2 separate regions of the Homo sapiens genome follow, and region 1 is linked to region 2. The links come from fine-mapping of genetic effects on plasma protein levels. A gene starts in region 2. The other region holds a variant in brackets. All regions are shown on one strand. Distances are between the middles of the regions.

Region 1 (4,384 bases), 200 kb after region 2:
TAAAACTGGAATGATACAGAGAAGATTAGCATTGCCCCTGCACAAGGACGACACACAAATTTGTGAAGCGTTCCATACAAAAATATATTTAAAAAAAGAAAAAACACAAAATCTCGTCTTTAATATTAGCTGCTGTGCATAGGCAATCCGTATCAACATTTTGTTTGCTATTTATATAATTAATATAGTGATTTATTTCTTTCCATGTCATTTGGCTGCTTAAATTTTTAATGTTTTTTTTGAGAGTCTCGCTCTGTTGCCCAGGCTGGAGTGCGGTGGCGTGATCTCGGCTCACTGCAACCTGCATTCAAGTGATTCTCATGCCTCAGCTTCCCGGATAGCTGGGATTACAGGCACCACCACCACACCGGCTAATTTTTTTTTTTTAGTACAGATGGGGTTTCACCATGTTGACCAGGCTGGTCTCGAACCCCTGGCCTTAAGTAATCTGCCCATCTCAGCCTCCCAAAGGATTACAGGTGTGAGCCACTGTGCCTGGCCTGCTTAATCTTTTATTACATATTTCAGTCATCCATGATATTGTGAAGTTATATTTGGTTTTCGTTCAGTCTCCTGGCATATATTTCCCCAAATCCTTGGAATCTTCAAAGTGATGAATGTCTTTTTTGTATGTTAATGAGGTGGCTGGTGGCTCCTAGACAGCTTCAAGATAGGAGGTGGGGCTGGTCACCAGAAAGAAGAAGGTAGGGTTAGAAGGTTGGGACTCAGCCCTACTCTTGCCCTCTGGGAAGGGAGAGGGGCTGATGGTTGAGCTGATCGCCAATGGCTAATGATTAAATCATGCCTATGTGATGAAGCCTCCATAAAAACCCAAGAGGACAGGGTTCAGAGAGCTTCCGGGTAACGTGGAGGTTTCTAGAGGGCAGCGCACCTCCCTTCTACGGGGACAGAAGCTCCTGTGCTTGGGACCCTTCCAGAACGCTCCCTATGCATCTTCTCATCTGGCTGTTCATCTGTATCCTGTAAAATATGCCTTGTAATAAACCAGGAAATGTGTTTCTCTGAGTTCTGTATGCTGATCTAGCAAATTAATTGAACCCAAGGAGGGGGCTGTGGGAACCCCCAATGTTTAGCAGGTCAGTCAGAATCACAGGCCAAATAACCAGGGGCTTGCAGTTGGCATTGGAAACGGGGTTCAGTCTTGTGGGAACTGAGTCCTCGATCTGTGTGGTCAGGCGCTGTCTACAGGTAGATGCCGTCAGACTTGAATGAGAGGACACCCAGCTGGTGTCCGCTGCAGAACTGATTGCTTGCTTGTGGGTGGGGAGAAGTATTCTGTGTTGATTCTTGAGTGAGAGAACAGGAAAAGGACACTGCGCTTTTCCCCTAGATCCTCAGGGTGGCTGAATATACATATGGAATACGCTGTAGGAGGAGTTATGAATATCTGTGAGGGGAGCAACACCCAGTGTGCAGTTAGCTTCATGCCTCTTCATGGGTCACGTGTTCAAAAAATGTTGGGGTTAGCGTGATCGGAGGATGTGGTTTTCCTCCCTCTGACGTCAAAAGGTGAAGCAGAGGACACGAGAACCCTCACTGCACCGCCTCTGGAGACGGCCACGGCCACTGCAGGCTCTGTGGTCTCTTACCAGGAAGGGAAGCATTGCCTGGCCGTGGCCTCAGATGATTGGCTAAAGGCAATAGAAGAGTGAGATGTCTGTTCTTTTTTTCTAGAGCTGGTTTCTGTTTATTCTTTAGGAAGGCATTCCAGTGAAAGGGTATTAAGGAAGGGGCACACTGAGGCGAGTCTGACCTGTCCTGTCACGGCCAGGAACTCAGTTTTTAAGGTTTCTCTGAGGTCTCCTCGACCAAGAAGCGGTCCGCTCAGTTGGCAGGGGTTTTAGGATTTTCTTATGTACCTCAAGGGAGCAGTAAACATCACATCATAATTTTTTTTTTAACAAAAAAGCACAATATGCACTCAAAACAGTGTTTGAACATTTTAAAGAATACATATTATATACCTCTGTTAAATGAAAAACTTCAGCCAAATTAAATTTAAATGAGTTTAATTGAGCAATGAACGATTCACGAATTGGGCAGCCCCCAGAATCACAGCAGATTCAGAGGGACTCCAGGGATACCTCGTGGTCAGAACAAATCTATAGACAAAAAAGGGAAGTGACATATAGAAATTGGAGGTGAGTACAGAAACAGCTGGGTTGGTTGCAGCTCGGCATTTGCCTTATTTGGACACAGTTTGAACTCTCAGCAGTGTACGAGTGAAGTACGGCTGCTGGGATTGGCCAAGACTCAGGTACTGCCACAGGTGCAGACTCCCAAGTGAGGATGTCAGGGTTTCAGTCTTGTCTACCAATTAAGTTAGGTTGCAGTTCGTCCACAAGGACTCAAATAGAGAAGTATGGAGTCCTTCTCAGGCCATATTTAGTTTGCTTTAACAATTCCACCCTTTTGGTCATTTTCTCAATTTTGAGAGATTGACCAAAACTTTAGTCATTGATGTCACT[A/G]TCACCATCGTAAATGTACTTATTTGGTCCTGAAACCCTCTGAGAAACAGTAGAACAGTGAGTTTTGCAAAGGTAGGAACAAGGACTGAGGGTACCTCCTTATGCTGGAACGTCCTGTTTATAGGGGAATCTGTTAGGATCTATGTGTTTCCTTAAAGTCTTAGTTTGATTATGTCACATTTAGCATGAGTGACTCCATTTTTGTTTGGCTTAGTCTGTTGGGACATAGTGCATGAGCTCAGTCCAAAACAATGGCCTCCCATAATTTTATTTTAATAAATTCCCCTTTCTGTCCAGGTTCTCACTTAGGTGAGTGTGGGCGGCAAGCCACCCAGCTGCCAAGGCAAGACCCCGAGGGCACAAGCTGTTCCAGTATAATAAAAAATATATATATAGAATAAGAATAGTTATACTAGGCCGGGCGCAGTGGCTTACGCCTATAATCCCAGCACTTTGGGAGGCCGAGGTGGGCAGATCATGAGGTCAGGAGATCGAGACCATCCTGGCTAACACGGTGAAACCCCGTCTCTACTAAAAATACAAAAAATTAGCCGGGCGTGGTGGCGTGCACCTGTAGTCCCAGCTACTCGGGAGGCTGAGGCAGGAGAATGGCATGAACCCGGGAGGCGGAGCTTGCAGTGAGCCGAGATTGCGCCACTGCCCTCCAGCCTGGGTGACAGAGCGAGACTCTGTCTCAAAAAACAAAAACAAAAACAAAACAAAACAAAACAAAAAGAATAGTTATACTAGAAATAGATTATAGATATGATTAGATATGACTATTATCAATCATTAGTTTGTGGCATTACTCTATTCCAATATTATAATAATCTTTGTTCTACAATTATAACCTAGGAAAAACCAGGCCATACAGAGATAGGAGCTGAAGGGACAGGGTGAGAAGTGACCAGAAGACGAGTGTGAGCCCTCTGTCACGCTCAGACAGGGCCACTAGAGGGCTCCCTGGTCTAGTGGTAATGACAGTGCCTGGGAAGGCACCTGTTACTTAGCCGACCAGGGAAGGGAGTCTCCCTTTGGCCAGGGGAGAGGGGCGGAGGGGTTAGAGAAGACTCTGCTCCACCATCTCTTGTGGAAGGCCTGACATCAGTCAGGCCCGCCCACAGCCATCCGGAGGCCTGACCATCTCCCTGTGATGCTGTGCTTCAGCGGTCACGCTCCTGTTTCACTTTCATGTTCCGCTCTGTACACCTGGCTCCATCTTCTAGATAGCAGTAGCAGAATTAGTGAAAGTGCTAAAGTCTTTGAAATGCATAGAAGAAATAATGACGTAGGCTGTCTCCTCTCTCTCTCCGCCTCGGCTACCAAACAGGGAAGGGCACCCTGTCCGGTGGACACGTGACTTGCGTGACCTGACCTATCATTGGAGATGACTCACACTCCTTACCCTGCCCCCTTGTCTTGTATCCAATAAGTAACAGGGCAGCCAGGCATTCGGGGCCACTACCAGTCTCCGTGTCTAGGTGGTAGTGGTCCCCTGGGCCCAGCTGTCTTTTCTTCTATCTCTTTGTCTTGTGTCCTTATTTCTGTGATCTCTCATCTCCGCAGGTGAGGAGAAAAACCCACAGGCCCAGTAGGGCTGGACCCTACAGGCGAGAGTGTGACCAAAACTTAGGGCCTTAGCACCACTCTCAGTTACCATCGTTTTGGGTTTCTGGTCTCAGCACGTCATTCATAGGTTACGGTGTCCTCATGGTCACACATTTCTTTCAGCTTCTGCCATTCCAGTTGAAGAGAGACCATTTGTTGTTCTAGAGATGGCTGCATGCAGACATTTAAAACCTTTGAGAGAATGCAGCGCACCAGGGAGACTATTATTATGATTACTGGGAGGATAATACCAAGAGTTTGCAGTATGCTCCTTACCCAGGGTCCCT
Region 2 (4,384 bases):
TTTCATTGGTCTCCCTCATTACTTGATATTATTGTTGTATATATCTAATTCTAACTCAATGTATTTTAAAACTCTCACCTAAGACCGTATTTGTTTTTTTGTTTTTTTTTTTTTGGAGGCAGAGTCTCTGTCACCCAGGCTGGAGTGCAGTGGCGCCATCTTGGCTCATTGCAACCTCCATCTCCTGGGTTCAAGCAATTCTTGTGCCTCAGCCTCCTGAGTAGCTGGAATTACAGGTGCCTGCCACCAGACCCAGCTAATTTCTTGTATTTTTAGTAGAGACAGTGTTCTGCCATGTTGTCCATGTTGATCTCTTAACTCCTGAGCTCAGGCAATCCTCCCGCCTTGGCCTCCCAAATTGCTAGGATTACAGGCAAGAGCCACCACGCCTGGACCTTTTTACTTTTTTGTAGTTGGAAAAGGAAGGAATATTTTAATAGCTTTAAAATTGTTTTATTATGATAAAATTTTCATATTATAAAGTTTATCATTTTAATTATTTTAAAGTGTACAGTTCTGTGGCTTTGCGAATATTCATATTATTGTTCAGTCATCACCACCATCCATCTCCAGAACTTTTTCATCACCCCAAGCTTAAACTCTGTACCCATTAAACACTAAATCCCCATTCCTCCAGCCCTTTGCAACCACCATTCTACCTCCTGTCTCTCTGAATTTGACTACTCTAGACACCTCATACAAGTGGAATCATACATTTATCTTTTTGTGATTGGGTTATTTCACATAGCATGTCTTCAGTGTTCATCCATGTTGTAGCATGCGTCAGAATTTCCTTTCTTTTGGCCAGGCATCGTGGTTTATGGGTTTATGCCTGTAATCCCAGCACTTTGGGAGGCTGAGTTTGGATTTGGGAAGATTGCTTGAGCCTAGGAGTTTGAGACCAGCCCTGGCAACATAGTGAGATCCCGTCTCTACAAAAAATAACAAAAATTAGCCAGGCATGTTGGCACGTGCTGGTAGTCCCAGCTACTTGGGAGGCTGAGGCAGGAGGATCCCTTGAGCCTAGGAGGTCAAGGCTGCAGTGAGCCATGGTTGCAACACTGCACTGCAGCCTGGGCGACAGAGACCCTGACTCCAAAAAAAAAAAAAAAAAAAAAAAAAAGGCACAAAACCCCAATAAATAGAATTTCCTTCTCTGCATAATGCTGCTATGAACATGGTACAAATAGCTGTTTTCATTTCTTTGGGGTATATATCCAGAAGTGGAATTGCTGGATTATGTGGTAATTATGTTTAATTTTTTGAGGAACCACTCTACGGTTTTCCACAGCAGCCACACCATTTTACATTCCCGTCAGCGATGCACAAAGGGTTCCAATTTCTCCGCATCTTTGCCAACACTTATTTTCTTTTTTTCCTCTTCTTCCTCCTTCTCCCCCCTTGAAACTTTTTGTTTTCTTCTCGTTTTTGTAGAGAACAGGGTCTCCTTATGTTGTCCAGTCAAGTCTGCCAACTCCTGGGCTCAGGCTATCCTCCTGTTTCTGCCTCCCTAAGTGCTGGGATTTTAGGCTGAAGCCACTGCGCCCAACTCCCTGCTTCTTCAACTGCCATCCTAATGAATGTTAAGTGGTATCCCACAGTGGTTTTGATTTGCGTTTCCCTAGTGATTAACTATGGGAAGCAGAAGTGAATGAGACAGAATTGTGATCTTGTCAGAAAAATCGTCTTGGAAAAGCCAACGTCCAACAGAAATGGTTAGAACAGGGGTCGCTGGCTTCCATCCAGACAGTATCCCTGACCCTTGTTGGGGCAATGTCACAGAGGCTCCTGCTGAGCAGGGAGGTCTGGATTCCACACTCTTCTGCCACTGCCCAGCTCTGGACCTAAGCTTTCTATGGGTGTCAAGAGGACAAGCAGCCGTGCCCATTTGTCTCGCTGCTTGTTTTTTTGGGTGTCAGATGCGCCAGCAGGAGGGACAGTGTGCGGGAAGGTGCTGGTCTGAGGCTGGTCCTGCCAAAGCCCCGCAGGCTCACTCCCTGGTCGTGCGGAGGTGGCTGGTGCTCGCTGGTCTCCTCAGCACCCGCAGGCCGGGCCCGGGGGCCAGGCAGTTGTCCTCTGTGGAGCCTTATCGGGGCCCACAGGCCCTGCTGCCTTGACCCCACCCGGGCCCCAAAACTCGGCCTGGGGACTGCACAAGGCGGGGCTACGCGGGGCAGGGCCCGTCTGCTGGGGGAGTGCGCTGGGCGGCGGCGGGAGGGCAGGGTCCCTGGGCTCCGACAGCCCCTCCGGCGGAGGTCAATCACAATGAAACCGTGTCCAGCGGACCCGGCAGGGGCTCGCCGCAGTCTACCTGGCCACCGTGAAGCCATGACCTGGCGCCCGAAGCTGCCGGCCGGGGTGTACTCCGCGCGGGACCCTGGGCCTCCGCAGGCCCCGGCGGGGTCGCCCCGAGGCGGGCCTGGCGAGTCCAATCGCCCTGCCCGCAGGGGACCCGCCCCTCATGGGTCCCGCCAATCGCAGGGTACGTTGCTCGGCAGTGCTGCGCGGCTTGGCCTATGGGACGGCGCGTTGTTGGGCTGCAGCGCCGCAGGCCGCACCCAGGTCGGGCGGTGGGGGCGAGCGGAGGGGCTGAGGGGCGGAGAGGCCTGGCGGGCCGCTGCTGCGGGCCAGGGGACGGGGGCGGAGCCGGAGCCGGAGCCGACGGGCGGTGGCCGCACTGGGACCCCGGAATCCCGCGCGCTGCCCACGATTCGCTTCTGAGGTGAGGCTAGCTAGCGGGGGCGGCGGGGGCCCGGTTCGGGCTGAGGCGGCGGCGGGGGCGCGGGGAACTGGGCCGCGGTTGCGGCGGGCGGGGGCCGCGGGGCCTGCGGCGGCCCGGGCAGCCTCGGGGGCGGGGAGGCCGCTGCGGCGCCGAGGGCGTCTTGGAGGGGTCCCCGCGGGGCCTTCGGCCTGGGCCGAGCCGGGGAGCGAGGGCGCCGCAGATCTTTCATCGGGATAGGACCCCGGGGACTAGGCTTTTCCCGGGCCGCTCGTTCCTGGCCGGCTTGTGGGCTGCAGGGGTGGGGGCGGAGGAGGACGACCCTGGCTGGACGCTGGTCAGCATCCTGCTTGTGAGACCGGTTCCGCGGTCCGCAGCGCTGGTGGCTGCAAGGTTTGTGTACGGACGCATCTGTCGGCTCTCGTATTTAAAAACGACGGCTTCTGCCAAAAGAGAAAAGCCATATCTGCCGACGGACGCTCGAGAGATAATCGTGGAACTTTATCAGCGATGGGGCTGTTGGTCACCTTTGCCCTCCCTCTCTTTTCTTTTTTCTTAATCTTTTATTTTCGTTTTTTGGGAGATGTCAGAGGGCCTTTCCCTGTTAGGATGACTTTTATCTTTGCTCTTGTAATGGCTCAAGATAGTTGGGAGGTAATTTGCATTCACTTTATGCATACCCACCTTGAAAAACGTATTTTGGTTCGCCTGAAACTGTTGTTGGTTTGAGCATAATTTATGTTTAGAAAGACAAAAAGCAATTGTCATATCTCCAAAGACCAAAGACATAGCTGATAGCTGTATGCATTACTGGTAAGTTAAAGAAAGATTTTTTGTGTGAAAAATTGACTGAGATCTTAATGGGGATAGGAAATAGAATGCTGATAGGTCGACTGTGTCTATGAGTAGAGGCGCCTAGTGAAAACAAGCTTGGAGTGGATGAGTAGGAGTTCAACAGGCACCAGAGAGAGGAGGGCATTTCAGGCAGAGGGTGTGAATTGTATGAAAGTGAGTTTGTAAACTTTGGAGCCTTGAATGGACAAAGGCCCGCGATGATACCTTTTTTTTTTGAGACGGAGTCTCGCTCTGTCGCCAGGCTGGAGTACAGTGGCGCGATCTCCAGTCACTGCAATCTCCGCCTCCCAGGTTCAAGCAATTCTCCTACCTCAGCCTCCCGAGTAGCTGGGACTACAGGCGCGCGCCACCACGCCCAGCTAATTTTTGTATTTTTAGTAGAGACGGGGTTTCACCATGTTGGCCAGGATGGTCTCAGTCTCTTGACCTCGTGATCCGTCCGCCTAGGCCTCCAAAAGTGCTGGGATTACAGGCGTGAGCCACCGCGCCTGGCCTACGTTAAAATTTTAATATACTCCTTTGATTTTGACAGTGGAGAAAACTAGAATAGTAAAGTTGTCTTTTCAGGAAGTGGATGATTTGGGCAGTCAAAACTGCTTTTCAGAGTTTCGATGTGGTTTACAATGGTATGGACAGCTGGTATGATTTGTTAGTTTTCTACTTGTGGTGTCTTTAGGTTTTAAAGTTTCGGAGAGTCGCTGAGTGATGTGAGTCTAAACTCTAGCCAGTCCCCGAATTGTGAGATAGTTTTCCTTCTAAAATATACTTCGTACAAGCTGGTCATTTTTCCCCTTAATTCTTTTGATGTTA

Direction of the effects. Alleles are on the strand shown, and positions count from the first base shown. The strength of an association depends on the size of the effect and on how common the allele is.
With allele A in place of G in region 1, the plasma level of the protein whose gene starts at base 2,542 in region 2 is higher (weak association).

The links. A credible set is the group of variants that fine-mapping cannot tell apart. PIP is the posterior inclusion probability: the model's chance that the variant is causal. Protein levels are from antibody-based Olink assays in UK Biobank. Linkage for the fine-mapping came from a reference panel and not from the study's own genotypes, which makes the PIPs less certain.
Region 1: its variant is the best candidate, but not a certain one, in a credible set for the plasma level of the ADD1 protein (UK Biobank, PIP 0.87).

What each region holds. Positions count from the first base shown.
Region 1 is chr4:3,044,126-3,048,509 of GRCh38, forward strand. It overlaps the pseudogene RNU6-204P and HTT-AS. Among named protein-coding and RNA genes, the nearest start is that of HTT, 28 kb to the right of the region's middle. RefSeq lists an enhancer at 3,585-3,944. The variant A/G (reference allele first, on the strand shown) is at 2,490.
Region 2 is chr4:2,841,303-2,845,686 of GRCh38, forward strand. ADD1 (adducin 1) reads left to right here and starts at 2,542. Exons shown (of 16, transcript NM_001354761.2): 1 at 2,542-2,722. RefSeq lists an enhancer at 1,314-1,825 and silencers at 1,954-2,003, 2,104-2,483, 2,544-2,733, 2,854-3,003.